Linked DNA regions of Homo sapiens. The protein of the gene in region 3 interacts with the protein of the main gene of each other region in a pairwise test. Each region holds a gene or a part of one and is shown on either strand. Other genes may lie near its edges. The genes, in order: LPL, RNF103, UBE2Z and RNF144B.

What was found.
Region 1: the proteins of UBE2Z (region 3) and LPL interact in a two-hybrid assay, tested with the Homo sapiens proteins (one large-scale study listed by BioGRID and IntAct).
Region 2: the proteins of UBE2Z (region 3) and RNF103 interact in a two-hybrid assay, tested with the Homo sapiens proteins (one large-scale study listed by BioGRID and IntAct).
Region 4: the proteins of UBE2Z (region 3) and RNF144B interact in a two-hybrid assay, tested with the Homo sapiens proteins (one large-scale study listed by BioGRID and IntAct).

Annotation. Positions count from the first base shown.
Region 1 is NC_000008.11:19,956,091-19,959,979, reverse strand, and holds part of LPL (lipoprotein lipase precursor), read right to left. Parts: intron 721-3,889; coding exon 600-720; intron 1-599. UniProt on the Homo sapiens protein: Key enzyme in triglyceride metabolism.
Region 2 is NC_000002.12:86,620,677-86,625,211, forward strand, and holds the start of RNF103 (E3 ubiquitin-protein ligase RNF103), read right to left. Parts: upstream 3,190-4,535; 5' UTR 3,187-3,189; coding exon of another isoform or gene 3,140-3,186; 5' UTR 2,211-3,139; coding exon 1,985-2,210; intron 1-1,984. UniProt on the Homo sapiens protein: Acts as an E2-dependent E3 ubiquitin-protein ligase, probably involved in the ER-associated protein degradation pathway.
Region 3 is NC_000017.11:48,911,407-48,914,906, reverse strand, and holds part of UBE2Z (ubiquitin-conjugating enzyme E2 Z), read right to left. Parts: intron 2,074-3,500; coding exon 1,886-2,073; intron 1-1,885. UniProt on the Homo sapiens protein: Catalyzes the covalent attachment of ubiquitin to other proteins. Specific substrate for UBA6, not charged with ubiquitin by UBE1. May be involved in apoptosis regulation.
Region 4 is NC_000006.12:18,390,043-18,393,931, forward strand, and holds part of RNF144B (E3 ubiquitin-protein ligase RNF144B), read left to right. Parts: intron 1-3,889.

The DNA.
Region 1 (3,889 bases), on a different chromosome or scaffold from region 3:
CTGTCGCTACTAAAAATACAAAAATTAGCTGGGCATGGTGGTGGGCACCTGCAGCCCCAGCTACTCGGGAGGCTGAGACAGAAGAATTGTTTGAACTCGGGAGGTAGAGGTTGCAGTGAGCTGAGATCGAATCACTGCACTCCAGCCTGGGCAATAGAGAGAGACTCCATCTCAAAAAAAAAAAAAAAAAAAAAAAAAAAAAGAGCTAACACTTTGTCATGGACTTCTTACTACTTATATTTTCTGTACATATTATATGTACATCTATAGAGTGGTTTCCTGTTACCATTGCTCATTTTCTTTAATGTCAAACCTTTTGAGATAGTTTAATTATATTGTTTAACAGCAGCTTTATAAAAGAAATAAACAGATATAAGATGATAAATAAAAAAATATAACTAGTAAGTGAAAATAAAATGGCCAATTTGAAGCATTTTTTTCTCAATATCAAATAGAGGAAAGACCTCAATTTTGAAATTCTGATTTTTTTAACTAAAGACTTGTTTTCTAGGCATCGCTCTCTGCTTCTGCTGCTCAGACCAAGGGTTATGGCAGGAGAGGGACTGGTGCCATGATGACCGCCCCCCTGTGCTACTCACAGAGTGAATGGGATGTTCTCACTCTCGGCCACGGTGCCATACAGAGAAATCTCAAAGGCCTGATTGGTATGGGTTTCACTCTCAGTCCCAGAAAAATGAATCTTTACTTGGTAATGGAAGACTGTTGGGGAGGAAATTCGAACATGTTGATCAATCTTTATGAAAATATCACAACCCCAAATAGTCAGGCAATTCAGAACCACAGAAGTATCTCACTAGCACTCAAACCGGAAGTGCACACACATGGAACCACTGGTGTGGCTTGGAAAGACTTCATCATGCACAGTGTTCATACCTAGAAAATGCAGACCTTGAATTCTACTCCCTTTCAGAAAAGTGTGGTTATATGCATAGGAAAAACCCAAATGTGTCTGAATTGCCAAGCAGCATTAGGAAGTAGCCATCTTTGAGGGGTGCTAGGGAGATCAAATCAGAAGGCCAAAACACTCATGATGCTTTCTCCATGAACTCCGCCATCCTTGGCCATCTTGTGCCTTAGCATCTGGAGCAAGCATATTTGACATTTGCTTCTGTGTCACTATATGTCACTGTGTTTGTTTCATGAGTAGGTCTGTCCTCCACCCTGACTGTAAGCGGGCTTCCGGTCACAGGATCATGCCCATGCTCTTAATTCCCCCACCATCTAGCGCAGATTAGGTGTCTAGTAGGTGCATCATAGAACTTATTTCGTTGATTTTTCCATTCCGTAATGGGCACACCAAAATCTCACAAATCACTACTAAAGAACTTACTCATGTAACCAAACACCACCTGTTCCCCCAATAACCTATGGAAATAAATAAAATTTTTTTTAAAAAAGAACTTATTTCATTGAGCCATCAGTGAGGCCACAAGGACTGCCTTGTAAAGCCAGCCCCTAAAGTATTCTATACTAGGGACAGCCTCTGGAAGCAGGTAGTTGAACTTCTATATCTCCTCCCTGCCCCTCCTCTGGTCTCTACCAAAAACCCTGAGCAAATGGGCCTGGGGAGAGGTTAAAAGGAAAGGCAGCAGGACTAAAATAGAACCATGATGATGGAGGAAAAAAGAGTTCTTGGAGGCCAGGCATGGTGGCTCATGCCTGTAATCCCAGCACTTTGGGAGGCCTTGGTGGGTGAATCACCTGAGGTCAGGAGTTTGAGACTAGCTTGGCCAACATGGTGAAACCCTGTTTCTACTAAGAAAAATACAGAAATTAGTTGGGCGTGGTGGCGGGTGCCTGTAATCCCAGTTACTCAGGAGGCTGAGGCAGGAGAATCGCTTGAACCGGAAAGCAGAGGTTGCAGTGAGCTAAGATTGCGCCGCTGCACTCCAGCCTGGGTAACTGAGCGAGACTGTGTCTCAAAAATAAATAAATAAATAAATAAATAAATAAATAAATAAATAAATAAAATAATTCTTGGAATGTTTTTTCTTCTATATCCCACTATCCTTGGTCAGATTTTTTTCTTATTTGTGTTACTGTCTATTAAATGTATTTTCTCTTAAGCTGAGACACAGATCTCTTAAGACTGATGGTTTAGAATATAGCAGACCATATTTTTATGCTGCTTTAGACTCTTGTCCAGGTGAAAAAATTTTTAATAAATGTTGTGAACTTCTGATAACAATCTCTATTTTGTTTAGATACATCTCTTTTTATAATTAAAAAGTAGTCAGATACTAAGCAAAAACAGAAGAACAACAACAAAACCCCACAGCTGCTAAAAGATGAAGAGACATTGAATTGAGAATTAAGCAAAACCCTTGCAGGCAGCAGGACAGGCCAGAGCTGAAGAAGCTGGGAGTGGTGAGGTGCCCCTAGGGGACACTGACAGAGCCTTGAACCCACTGGTGCAGGAGGCAGGGATGAGTGAAGCCTGTCTGTGTCTTCAAGATTATGGTCCCACAGTCCTCTCTTTACCTCATACGCATTGCCTGATTTTGAAGAGTTAAGGTTTCCTTGAAGCACAGGTGCCTCAACCTCTATACCACGAAAGACACCTCTACAGATTCTAAGAATCACCTTACACATGGGTGCCATATGTTTTACCTGGGGCCACTGTTCTTTAATATCATCCCTTCCCTCAGGTTTCCATCTGGATTCCACAAAAGCCACCCTTCCTGAAGTTGGTCCCTCTCACCGGATTTATCCGAAGACCTCCTCTCTCATTTTCCGACCATTCCTTTAGGTCTGCCTCTAAACAAGAGGCCAAGCTTGAAATTCAAGTGTGAAACAAACTCCTGGCAAAATGGCAGTATCTTAGAAGGTGTGAGATATTCTTGCCTTCCAGGAATAGTTGCATTTAAAAAGACAGATGAGGCCAAGGAGGGCAGATCACCTGAGGTCAGCAGTTCGAGACCAGCCTGGTCAACACGGTGAAACCCCCTCTCTACTAAAAATACAAAAATTAGCTGGGCATGATGGTGCATGCCTGTTATCCCAGCTACTCCGGAGGCTGAGGCAGGGGAATCATTTGAACCCGGGAGGCAGAGGTTGTGGTGAGCCAAGATCATGCCCCTCTCCTCCAGCCTAGGAGAAAGCTAGACTTCATCTCAAATTAAATAAATAAATAAATAAGACAGATGGTCCTTGCCTTTATGTAAGTTGTGAACATTCTGTAAAGGGCCAGGGAGTAAATATTTTAGGCTCTGTGGGCTATCAACTCTGTTATGGTGGCATGAAACCAGCCTTTGACAATATGGTAATGAATGTGTGTGGCTGTGTCCTAATAAAACTTTGCATGAGCACATAGAGGGGAACAACAGACACTGGGGCCTCCCAGAGGGTGGGAGGAGGGAGAGCTTCAGGAAAAGTAACTAATGGGTACTAAGCTTAATACCTGGGTGATGGAATATTCTGGACAACAAACTCCCATGTCACAAGTTTACCTTTTTAGCAAACCTACATACGTACCCCTGAACTTAAAAGTTTTAAAAAAACTATTTACAAAAGCAGGAAGTAGGCTGGATTTGGCACAAGGGTTATAGTTTGTTGACCCGAGGTGGATGGTTCCAAATGAGCTCTGAGCTCTGTGCTGATAGCCTAGCCCATGCTAATGGCCACATTTACAGGGGAGGGCAGCGAGCAAGGCTGCAAATCCCACACTGAGCACTGGGACCTTGCTGACAATGGGAATTAGAAGCCTCAGACAAATGGATCAATGCAACCCCCTATCAACAGAAACACCAGGGCTCAGGGTTTAGTAACACCAGTCATCATCTCTGTTCCAATGGACAGAATCAGTACATGTGATGCAGTGAGCATGATGAAATAGGACTCCTTGGTTTCCTTATTTACAACAGTCTCC
Region 2 (4,535 bases), on a different chromosome or scaffold from region 3:
AAAAGTGAACAAAATAGACAAAAATCCATCTCTTATAGAACAGGGCTTATATTTTAGTGGGGTTATCACATAATTATTAGGAACTTACCAAATTTGTACCACTCCAAAAAGGCACAACTTTCTTAATTATTTAGTTTTATGAATGACACATACAGGCTTCATATACATTTTTAAACAGTATGGCTTATATGCTTCTTACTTAAAAGATGTAGAATTGGGTTCACAGAATTTGCCATCAGCCCTGCTTAAAAGAGCAACAGGGTTTGTATGACTTGGAGGTTAGAACTTTACCTGTTAGACAGAACAAACTCCATATTCATATACAAATTTATATTATAAATTTAGAGCTTGTATCATTAAACAAAAAGGAAAGGAAAACACTAAAATCAAATTATTTTAACTTTCGCCTTAAATATTAAACAGTGAGAAACCAAGTACTGCACCATGATAGCAGCAAAACCATTCACAATAAACACTTAAATTTTAAACTGCTATACCATGACTTTTCTGCCATAAAACGTGTGATTTGAGTCATACTGGGCTGTGCGTCTTAAAGTTAAATGTGGACTTCTAGTACATTCAATGTGCCAAGTATTTTTAGGCCCAAAAGAAGGCAATAATAAATAACAGTCAAAAGAAAAAAAAATGTGTGACCAAATTATTTTCCATAAAAAAATGATGGCTTTGGCAGTTGAGACACTTCTCATCTCTAAACCAAGAGAGTTTATTTATTAGAGATCTTTTACCCTAGTTACTCCACTTCTTCCCCCTATGGTAGAAATAAGAATCGCCATAAACCAGTCAGCAAACAAGGGGCAAGAATAATATACGATTTTATATTTTCTCTAAAGAAACATTTATCACTTCTGCAGAGTGTGTTCCTCTCCTCTACCCTAATAGTGAGATATGAGTTTTATAACCCGCAACCTACAAATATCCAAGTGTTAAACTGCTAGCGAGCTCATACTCTTGTCTATCACGCTACATGTCTATAAGGTACTAAAGAAGGAAAAGATTTGTCTTGTAAAAGATACAGCTGACAAAAATACTTGAAACAACAAAAAAGATAACCATCAGTTTCAGCTGCTTCCCACAGCAACGCAGAAAGCCTTTCTCAAATTACATTCCACTTTCAGGAAGTATATCCAAAGATATACTTTGTGCAGCAGTGAAAAAAATTAACCATATTTCTCACCCAATCCTACCAAAACCAACAATTACTAAAAACACATTCTTTAAGACATTGAATATTCTCTCAGCACTATTTCACGTATATTTCTCAACCCATTAAACAATGCAAGGGTACCTGTGACACAGAAGACAAAAAAAATTTTTCTTTTACACATCCAAGATGCAAATTTTTAAAAATCCTAACAGAAATATAATATAAACTCGAACATGGCAGGCATTTATACAAAATGCTCGCCTTATTTTCACCAAACTTAAAGTCTGAAAAGCTAATACTGTACGGTGTATACTGTCTATATTCAAACTCATGATTTAACATTTAAATCCTAGGCCCAAGTGCCTCTGATAGTAAGTATTCCAAAGATGTGTCCCCACTCTGGGTATCTTATTATTACTATCGTGACAAATATTGCTATTGACAGACAACGTTTTGGAGTTTTTCTTACGTTTTTATGAACTTCAACTGACAAATAATGCTTTCCAGTTTGTAACTAGTTGATATTCCAGAATTTTGAGAAAATCACTCAACTTAGTAAACAACGCTAAGAAGCCACACTTTAAACTGTCATTTTACGATAACCTTAAAAGGATACACCAACACTCCTCCAAATAATTTCAGACTCCTCCTCAAAGCTGGGATCCGCATACTTGATTGTAGGAAGCTTGGACGAAGAAACCTGGGCAGCTTTAACGCTTCCAGGAAAGGCCTCACTCTGGGGGAACAGCCAGGTACCAGGAGGTACAGGTCGTCCCCTCTCCCAGGTGGAGGGGACCCTAGGGGAAGCCCGATACTCGCCTGACTTTTCCACCAGCTCCCGGACATCCTTCTTCTCGGGCAACCCTGAGTAGCCCAACCCCCGGCACTCCAAAATGGTCTTCAGCTTCTTGAAGCTCAGCGCCACCGGATCCACCAGCTGGGTGGCAAAGATGCCAGTTTCATACCACACAATGGCCTCAAAAAACCTGGCCAGGACGAACAGGACCAGGAAATAGAGGAGCAAGAAAAAAAGCTTCAGCCACATCTTCCCTGGAGTTTCCTCTCTTTCCAGAGAGCTCGGAATACGGGAGAGAGAAGGGTCGAGGGCGGGGGCCGCGGCTCGGTGGCAGCTTGGGCGAGGGCCCCGTGTCCACGCGCGGGCCACCCGGCGCCGTCACTGGCCGGCCATCCCCGGCGGGGAAGCAGGTGACGGGATCCGCGCGGGCGCGAGGCGGCGACGAGGGACGCAGAGACGCAGAGCCTCGCGCCGGGCCTCCCAGTCAAGAGCCGACAAAAATAAAGGGGAAAAACTCAAAACCCCCATCCATTAAGCACAGAAAGGAGAGGGGCGCGGGGAGAGCTCGCGGGGAAGAACAAAACGAGGGACGCTTCCCCCGGGGCGGGCACTGACCCAGGTGGCGGGGTCGGCCCTCCGGTGCCGCGATCTCAAGGGGGAGGGGGAGACCAAAAAATAACTCAGATCCGCCCAGGAGGCGGGGATCCGGGCGGCAGGCCGGGGCCCGAGGGGCCGTGGGGGCCGGACTCCCGCGGCCGCGGGTCAGGAGGGCGCGGCGCTCGGCCGGGCCAGGCCCGGGGCCCAGCGTGTTCTGCGCGGGGAGGAGCGGCCGCCGCAACGCCGCGCCCGAAGCCCAGGCCCCAGGCCCCGCCGACCGCCCAGGCTCCGCGAGAAGAGCGGCGGGCACGGCGGCGGCTCCAGGTTCGCTCGGGCCGGCTGGCGGGCGGCGCCTCTCAGGCGGGCGGGCACTGCGGCCCGGCCCAGGATGGGGCGTCGCGGTCTCTGCAGATGGAATCGGTCTCGGAGGGAAAAAACCAATAATAGGCCCCGAGACTGCTCCTCCAGGCGGCTACCCGGCTGCCTCCCGGCCACTCAGCGCCCGTCCCGCTCGGATGGGCAGTGCCGGTCGCAGCACCCGTCCCCAACACCCCCGCCACCTCCGGAGACCGCGGCCGTACCCTCCACAACCGTGTATCAGCGGCGGCCGCGGCCGGAGCCGAGACATAACAACTGACGTCGCGATGAGGCGGGGCCGGGGCGGGGCCTGCAGGGTGCGCCCGCAGGGGCCGAGGGCGGGGAATTCGGGGAGCCGCGGGGCTACCGGACTACCGAACGAGGGGCGGGAGGAGAGGCGGAGCCGCAGCGTGGTCGGGGCCTTCCCGCGGTGCCGAAAGTTGCCTCTCCGTGCTTTTGCGGCGTGGTCTCCCCTTTTGCCCCTCCAATGTTTAGCAATTGATTTTGTCTGAGGATTAGTCTTTAGATTGTATCACTTTGTGTATTTTTTGTAAAAATAGAGCAGTTAATTATTCTCTTAAAATCGGTGAAAATAGAAATGTACGTTTTTTGATGAATCCTGGTGAACAGGGAAATTTTTGGCACAGTTGGTTTGAGATGGTAGAAGGTTAAACCCAGAAAGCAAATGTTTTGCCCCCTCTTCATGAGAATGTGGCTTTGCACATGTGTGTTGGAGGAGGTTTGGCCAAAACTGGAGTTCGCGTTATACTAGGCCCAGTTGTCGCTGCCAGTTACAGCCTTTTCCCTCCTTCAGTCTCAAGGGTGTTAAAAGCCTGGTGTGGACTCCCTGAGTTCCTAGGACAAAGATTGTCGAGTGTAGATAAGTCCAGGTGCAAAGTTCCGGGTGCTTTATTTTGTACATGGGCCTGGCACAGTGGCTCACGCCTGTAATCCCAGCACTTTGGGAGGCCGAGGCGGGCAGATCACGAGGTCAGGAGTTCGAGACCATCCTGGTTAACACGGTGAAACCCTGCCTCTATTAAAAATACAAAAAATTAGGCCGGCGTGGTGGTGGGCCCCTGTAGTCCCAGCTACTCGGGAGGCTAAGGCAGGAGAATGGCGTGAACCCGGGAGGCGGAGCTTGTAGGGAGCTGAGATCGCGCCACTGCACTCCATCCAGCCTGGGTGACATAGCAAGACTCCGTCTCAAAAAAAAAAAAAAAAAAAAAAAAAAAAAAAGAAAGAAAGAAAAGAAAAAAAAGAGTCACATGGACAAGCATGCGATACCTGGTTCTGTGCTTATAAATTTAACCGGGCCGAGCGTACTCTTTACGTCAATCTCTGTGTCAGTCTTGAGGGAGGAAGGAGTTGGGTTCATAAACTGAACAAGGTTGGCTTTGACCAGCCCCTTTTGATAAGGAAGGAAAAAAAAAACAGTAATTACGGGGAAATGTTACTATTTGTGCAAAACTGTCAACTATCTGAAACTAGGGGTGAAAGTTTTAGGAAGAAAGGGATCATGATCCCAGGTCATGGAGCAAGGGAGGAACGGGAAGCAAAGAATGGACTGTGAGAATGTAGCCTCCGAATGGTGCCCATTTAAAATAAAGTGAACAAGGG
Region 3 (3,500 bases):
TGGGACTAGAGGCATGCGCCACCATGCCTGGCTAATTTTTGTATTTTTAGTAGAGACGGGGTTTCGCCAGGCTAGGCTGGTCTCGAACTCCTGACCTCAGGTGATCCACCCGCCTCGGCCTCCCAAAGTGCTGGGATTACAGGTGTGAGCCACCGCACCCGGCTGAAATTTTCTACTCTGTGATTCTTTATGGCAAATTTTCAATTTCAGGGCAGCTTCTCCTTTTCTACCTAACACACTTCTACTACTTTTACCCCACTGTCCTGTGGCTGGTATCTCAAAAGAGTTTTATATTGACCCAATGAGGGAGAGCCTACTTTGAGACACGCTTTCGCGAACAAATTTCATACAGAAGCAACGACTAAATTTCTTTATCATCATGGGTTTTAGCCTACCAGCAAAGACAATTAATTAAGTACCCTAACGAGATGAAGTACTTCTTTAAGGACAACCTCCTTTAAAAGACTTCTTCACTGCCAAAATCACAGCAGAACATATCCCTGGGTCTGAGCAAGTCCTAGAAAAATGAATCATGTCTCTAAGTTTATTTCAAATGCTGCTCTTCCCTCACACAAACCTGGAAACATGTTGGATAGCAGGAAAACAGAATAATCAGTTTGGGGGTACTTTCTCAACTTCAACCTGCACGTGTTCTCTGTCCCAGAGAAGTTCAGACCACTATAAAAACACCAATCCAAAATATGCGAGAAGATGTCCACACTGAGTTTTCAGCCCCCAAAGGCAACTAAAATGGGAACTCTATGAAGCAAAACCTCAGAAGCATCCAGAAAGAAGATGCACTAGAAACTCATTTCATATCTAATGTGATTTCCAATCTCAGACATTTGTCATTATTAAAATATTATAATCAGGTCAGGCATGGAGGCTCATGCCTGTAACCCCAGTGCTTTGGGAGCCACAAGAGGACGACTGCTTGAGGACAAGAATTCAAGACCAGCCTGGGCAACATAGTGAGATACCTGCCTCTACCAACAAAACAAAACAAAACAAAAACAAACAAAACAAAACAAAAATGAAACCATAATGATCACCACCACCACCACCGCCACTGCCTTCAAAGCAACTTATTGCAAGACTCAAATTAAGACACCCCAAATCTTGAATGGCACAGACCTGCAGCCTTTCTCAACCTGTTCAGGAGAGAAAATAAGGCCTTAACACCCCAAGAGAGTGGTTCTGAAACTGCAGTATGCACCACAATCATCTGGAGAGCTTGTAAAAAACAGATTTCTGGGCCGGGCACGGTGGCTCATGCCTCTAATCCCAGCACTTTGGGAGGCCAAGGTGAGTGGATGATGAGGTCAAGAGATCGAGACCATCCTGGCCAACATGGTGAAACTCCGTCTCTACTAAAGATACAAAAATTAGCTAGGTGTGGTGGTGCACGCCTGTAGCCCCAGCTACTTGGGAGACTGAGGCAGGAGAATCGCTTGAATCTGGGAGGCAGAGGTTGCAGTGAGCCAAGATCGTGCCACTGCACTCCAGCCTGGCGACAGAGCAAGACTCCGTCTCAAAACAAACAAAAAACAACAACCAAAAAAACCAGATTTTTGGCCCCAACCCCAGAGTTTCTTTTGTAGGTCTAAGATAGGGCCCCAGAAACTGCTCGGCTACAAGTTCCCAGATGCTCAGGGCCACACTCTTAAGAGAACCACTTCTCAAAGGTTACCACTGTAATAAATTAACTTCTCCCCTCTGCATCTAGAATGATACTAGTCACATACCATCCTGAGGAGATTTGAGAAGAGTCACTCAATCATTTTCTGTGTTCTGTAGTTCAGATGAGGGACTCCGGTTGATAAAGGCTGACCTAGAGTAATTATCTGCTAACAACCGACTTGGCTACTTAAAAGTCTCCTCTTACCCTAGAATACTCAAGCAGACTTTCCCATTGCGGTAGAAGTTGGGGTTAAACCTCACTGTGTTATTGCCCGTTGTCATCAGTTTGACCCGAGGTGGGTGGATGGGATAGTCGGGCGGACACCGAAACACGAACAGGAAGAAACCCCCTTCATAAGGAGTGTCAAATGGGCCTGTGATCAATGCATGAATCTGCAAAATAAAACCCCATCTCAAAATTGTGAGGTGATGACCCACCCCAAGCCCTCCTGGCTACCCTCCACCTACTACCCACACCAGAAGCAGAGTCCATAATCTGGTACACATGTTCTATATCCTCACCATGCAGAAGGAACATCCTGTATTCACTCATACTAATACGTAGGTTTGGAATTTTAAGAAATCTCATTACAGTGGAATGACATCTTACTCAGGGGTTACTTCTAAAGTTAGAGCCCAAGGCGAAAACTGAATCTAGTCAAAATCACTCTTGAGTATCCCCTAAAACTCTCTTAAAGCATTTTTTTTTTTTGTGCAGACCTCCCTGATCAGTGTTACATATAATGGATAAAACACCACTGTGGAAAAATATAATATGCTTATCTATAAAATATAACCCTAGCGTTTTTAATTTTGAGAAATCGACACAGATTTTGACTGAATATATGTTTGGATTTGCCCAGGCCAAACATGCATATGATGCAACCCCACCCTACATTTATGTGGCACGAAGGGAAAGTATGATGAAAGGAGACGAAGAAAGGGATTGGAGGCCACAGCCCAGTGCCAGTAACACAGCAGGGTTAGGGGGTGTGATGGATGCCTAGGGTATCTGCTTGCTTCCTCTGCAGAGGATCAAACCTATTGTGGAGGATGTGGCTCAGGCAGCACATCATGACTGAAAATGGGGAAGACTCAGGGTCCACTCAGAGCCATTAGACCAGTCCCAGAACTTTCCCCAATACTGTTTAAAAAAAAAAAAAAAAAAAAAATCAGCCGTCCTGAAAACGACACTAAATTCTCTTCCCCCTCAAGCCATAATTCTTCAACAGGATTTCCCCCCCTGAAGGGAGGAAAACCTGAACTGACTCAGTTATATTTCTTCTTCCACAAAGGCTCCTAGGCATTTAGGTCTGCTAAGCATTTGAACAGCAAAAGGAAAGGGACGTGGCAATCCAATGCCTAAGTCTATAGTTCCCACCTTGCCCTCCTGGCAAGACCCTACGTCATATTCTGGCTCTCAGTCATTTGGAATAGTAAACTCAACTGGTCTCAACATGGCATCAACTCTGGGACCCCAGGTACTAGGCTATTAACACTGGTACTTGACTGAGGACGAGATGTCCTAGGAAAAACATTTCTAACTACATAAAAAAAAAATATGAAGGGAAATCTATTCAAAACAACAAAAAAAGATACACCAACAATACAAAATCTGAATTTTTACTGTAAGAAATTTACTGTAAGAAAACTATGTGTTTCACTTAAACAGCATTAGGTTTAGGAAATATGATTTCTTTCTAACATCAGTTTAAGTGCAACTGCACTTCTGTGGGTAGAGCATTCAGTGACAGAGAAACCTAGGTATCTATGCCAGAGAAATGTGACATTATGTATTAAGCTTTCTCTCTGAGAGGAGG
Region 4 (3,889 bases), on a different chromosome or scaffold from region 3:
ATAAAGATGGCTAAGATGTGGTCTCTGTCCGGAAGAAATTCTCATAAGGTCAGAAGTGACTTGGGTCTAGAGTGGTAGTTCTGAATTCACATTGCTTTGCCAGATTATAAAAAGTACTTCGATGTTTGTCACCTCGATCATCTTAATTTTCTTGGTAGTGTTACCTTGACCATTTGACCATTAAGAGGTATATGACACCTAAGTTAATTTATGTAAATATTTTAATTCATAATTTTTACCTTTAGGTGTATGTGGGAGGTCTTGGACTAAAGTTTTAGTTTTATTAACTTTGGCATTTGCTATTTACCCAGTCGGTGAGTACTTTGGAACCTAATGCATCATACCATAGTTGTTATTAAAAAATGGATAACTATATATTAAATGAGTAAAAATGACCAATGCTTCTGCAACGTGGAATGAGGATCTTCTCATCTATGAGCAGATCTCTTTCTTGAATTCAAAACACAGCAATCTAAGTGAAATAGACTTTTCTTATTCATAGCTGGAGATACTTCTGATCACATGGCTTGGAGTATTTATTAAGAGCATACTTTGAAAGCCATGTCCCATTGTTTTCTAAATCTTTTGAAGTCACGAGTTTGAGTCCCAGCCCTTCATCAACTTGTTCTTTGTTTTTCTTGGGAAGATAAAACAAGACAACTCGTTTCTGTCTGTTGAACTTGTGGCTGAAACCATAAACCCACACATTCTCCTGCATATGATTATATGAAATCCTCTGTTGAAAACCTCCTCAACTAGTTGACTCTTAATAAGTAGGAGCTGGGTTTAATCACCTTTACATCCCTAGCACCTAATGTGTAGAATTTGTTCTTTGTGTGTTGACTTTGTTTCCTTCATGATAAATTCCTGTTATAGGAAATTAATTGGCAAAGACATACAAAAATCTACACCTGCACTTTGCTCAGGTGGGGTGAAGATTCCTCTTCCAAACTGGTTTCCAATTTGTTTCTAATTAAAATTTCTATATGAAACTTTTAACTTTAACAGGAGGGGGTAATATTGGCACATGCTTTTATTCATTTGAAAAAAAATTTTTGATTTAGATATTCGTGCTTTAGCGGCTCTGGTTTTCTGGTAATGTCCTGACCCAAGAAATCAGCCTGGCTCTTGCTCTATAAGGCTCTTTGAAATACCACTTCTCCTTGATTGGTCAATTACATCATTGTCTGACCTGCCTTTAAGTGGCGTTCCTTCCTGCTTCTGAGCTTTGTTGTTATGCCAGGCATAGGGAAGAAAATTATTTAGCAGGGCTGTGTGAATAATTGTGGGAGGCAGGGAACCACTGATTAAAACAGGAGTGGGCAAGGCACAGTGGTGATATTGAAGAGGTAGCTACCATGATGAATGCAAAATTGCCATGCCAAAAATATCATTGAGCTGTTATTCTCATATTCACTCCCACCTTCTTTGATAAGTTTATATTGTTTGGAAAACTGGGAATGGATTTCTACCTCTTGGGCCTTACCCTGTAGGGTAATGAGAACATGGAAAGAAGGCAAGAAGAAATGTGCTTTTAAGAAAAAGCCAGTTGCGGTGGCTCATGCCTGTAATCCCAGCACTTTGGGAGGCTGAGGTGGGCTGATCACGAGGTCAGGAGATCGAGACCATCCTGGCAAACACGGTGAAACCACATCTCTACTAAAAATACAAAAAAATTAGCCAAGCGTGGTGGTGGGCGCCTGTAGTCCCAGCTACTCGGGAGGCTGAGGCAGGAGGATGGCGTGAACCCAGGAGGCGGAGCTTGCAGTGAGCCGAGATCGGGCCACTGCACTCCAGCCTGGGGGACAGAGCCAGACTCCATCTCAAAAAAAAAGGAGCAGCAGTTTGCAAATGTTAAAACTAGATGTGCCAAGGGCCAGGCGCGGTGACTTACGCCTGTAATCCCAGCACTTTGGGAGGCCGACGCGGGAGGATCACGGAGGTCAGGAGATCGAGACCATCCTGGCTAACATGGTGAAACCCCATCTCTACTAAAAAAAAAAAAAAAAAAAAAAAAAAATTAGGTGTGGTGGCAGGTGCCTGTAGTCCCAGCTACTTGGGAGGCTGAGGCAGGAGAATGGCGTGAACCCAGGAGGCAGAGCTTGCAGCAAGCTGAGATAGCACCACTGCACTGCAGCCTGGGCGACAGAGCGAGACTCCGTCTCAAAAAAAAAACGATGTGCCAGATGTTCTGTCCTCTGTAGGATTTGGAGTTAGCTTATCACAACGTCATGTACATTGTTGGCCATGCTTGGACATCAGCACCAATATATATTTTGTAAGAAAAAATATTAGATCTCACTAAATTAGTTGTAACAGACTTTATTCATAACCTAATTTCAAGCAGCAAAGAGATTGTTTGGAAAACAGTTCTTGCTAATACTTTAAGATGCTTCTCCTTCCTGATGAAGTGCCTACTTTTTTTTTTTAACCCACAAAAAGGTTAATAGGGCTATATTTGCATATCAGTTCCATTTTTAGAAGGTTAATAGTCTCCAAGTTACAAAGTTGTGATCTCATTGCCATCCTAGAAACTGTTGAAATGACGATGTTAAAACTAAGAAATTATAGACTAAATAAAGTGCTTTTTGAGCACTTTAAGCCATGAAACAGTGGCGAGAAAACAGAAGTCCTCTTCTCTACCACAGGAGGCACAGTGATACAATACTGCCACCTCACAGAGCCTGAATAGGTGAATATTTACTTTCTTACATCTAAGACCTAAATATTTCCTGGGTTTGTTTATGCTAGAGGATATTTTCTAATCTATTTCATTTTTTCAAATAATGACAACTTATGTGTAATATCATGTATGTACTCATTGAGTTTGAGCATTATTCTTTTAAAAAGGGCAGATCATGAGGTCAGGAGATCAAGACCATCCTGGCTAACATGGTGAAACCCCGTCTCTACTAAAAAATACAAAAAATTAGCTGGGCGTGATGGCGGGCACCTGTAGTCCCAGCTACTAGGGAGCCTGAGGCAGGAGAATGGTGTGAACCCAGGAGGCAGAGCTTGCAGCGAGCCGAGATCGCGCCACTGCACTCCAGCCTGGAGACAGAGTGAGACTCCATCTCAAAAAAAAAAAAAAAAAGTAATTAATAGATATACAGTTTATTTAAGTAATTGCAGTTCCCTGACTACGAGAGGGGCAGCCTATGTTTCCATTTGTTCATGTCCTCTTAGGTTAGGGCATGCATTAGAACTGTTTTTCTGATTGAAAGAATGTACGCTGGTTCATCTTGTCCTTGAATGACCAGAGAGCTGGTTGGAGATGCAAGCGGAGAGTAGAGCTACAACACTGGCCACAAAGGAGGTCTACCATAAGCCCTTGCTTCCTTCATTGCTGTTGCTACTGCTACCAGCCAGCAGGTCACCCTGCCATTGTATTTGGATTGTATTTAGGGTAGAACTTCAGCTAATGGCTGATAATGCTCAGCACTTTACTAGACTCAATTAGTACCATTGGGTTCACTAATAGTTTCTGTTAGGAAAAGGAACCAGTAGCTAACCAAACTACTCTATTGGGCAGAAGTACCAAGATCAACATAATGCTGATTTTCAGATTGCATTGAGTGGAAACTGGTTGCCTGGTGTGTTCTTAGCTGATATGGGGATAGCTTTCCTAACAAGGCAAGGATGGGACCTTTAGATTGCTGCTCTTTTTTTCTGCTTTATTAGAATATTAGCTTCCCGAGAATATGTCTCCATTTTACAAGGCAACACTTCAGCCTTTCTTCATCACCACCCACCCTTCTCAAAAACTTTCCCCTTTGCTACCTCCCTCCCATATTTATGCATTCATATCTGTTATTCTAGCTACTTCACAGTGATGACTCGATGTCTCACAAAGGCATATAAACACATTGAGAGTATACATATGTCTCCT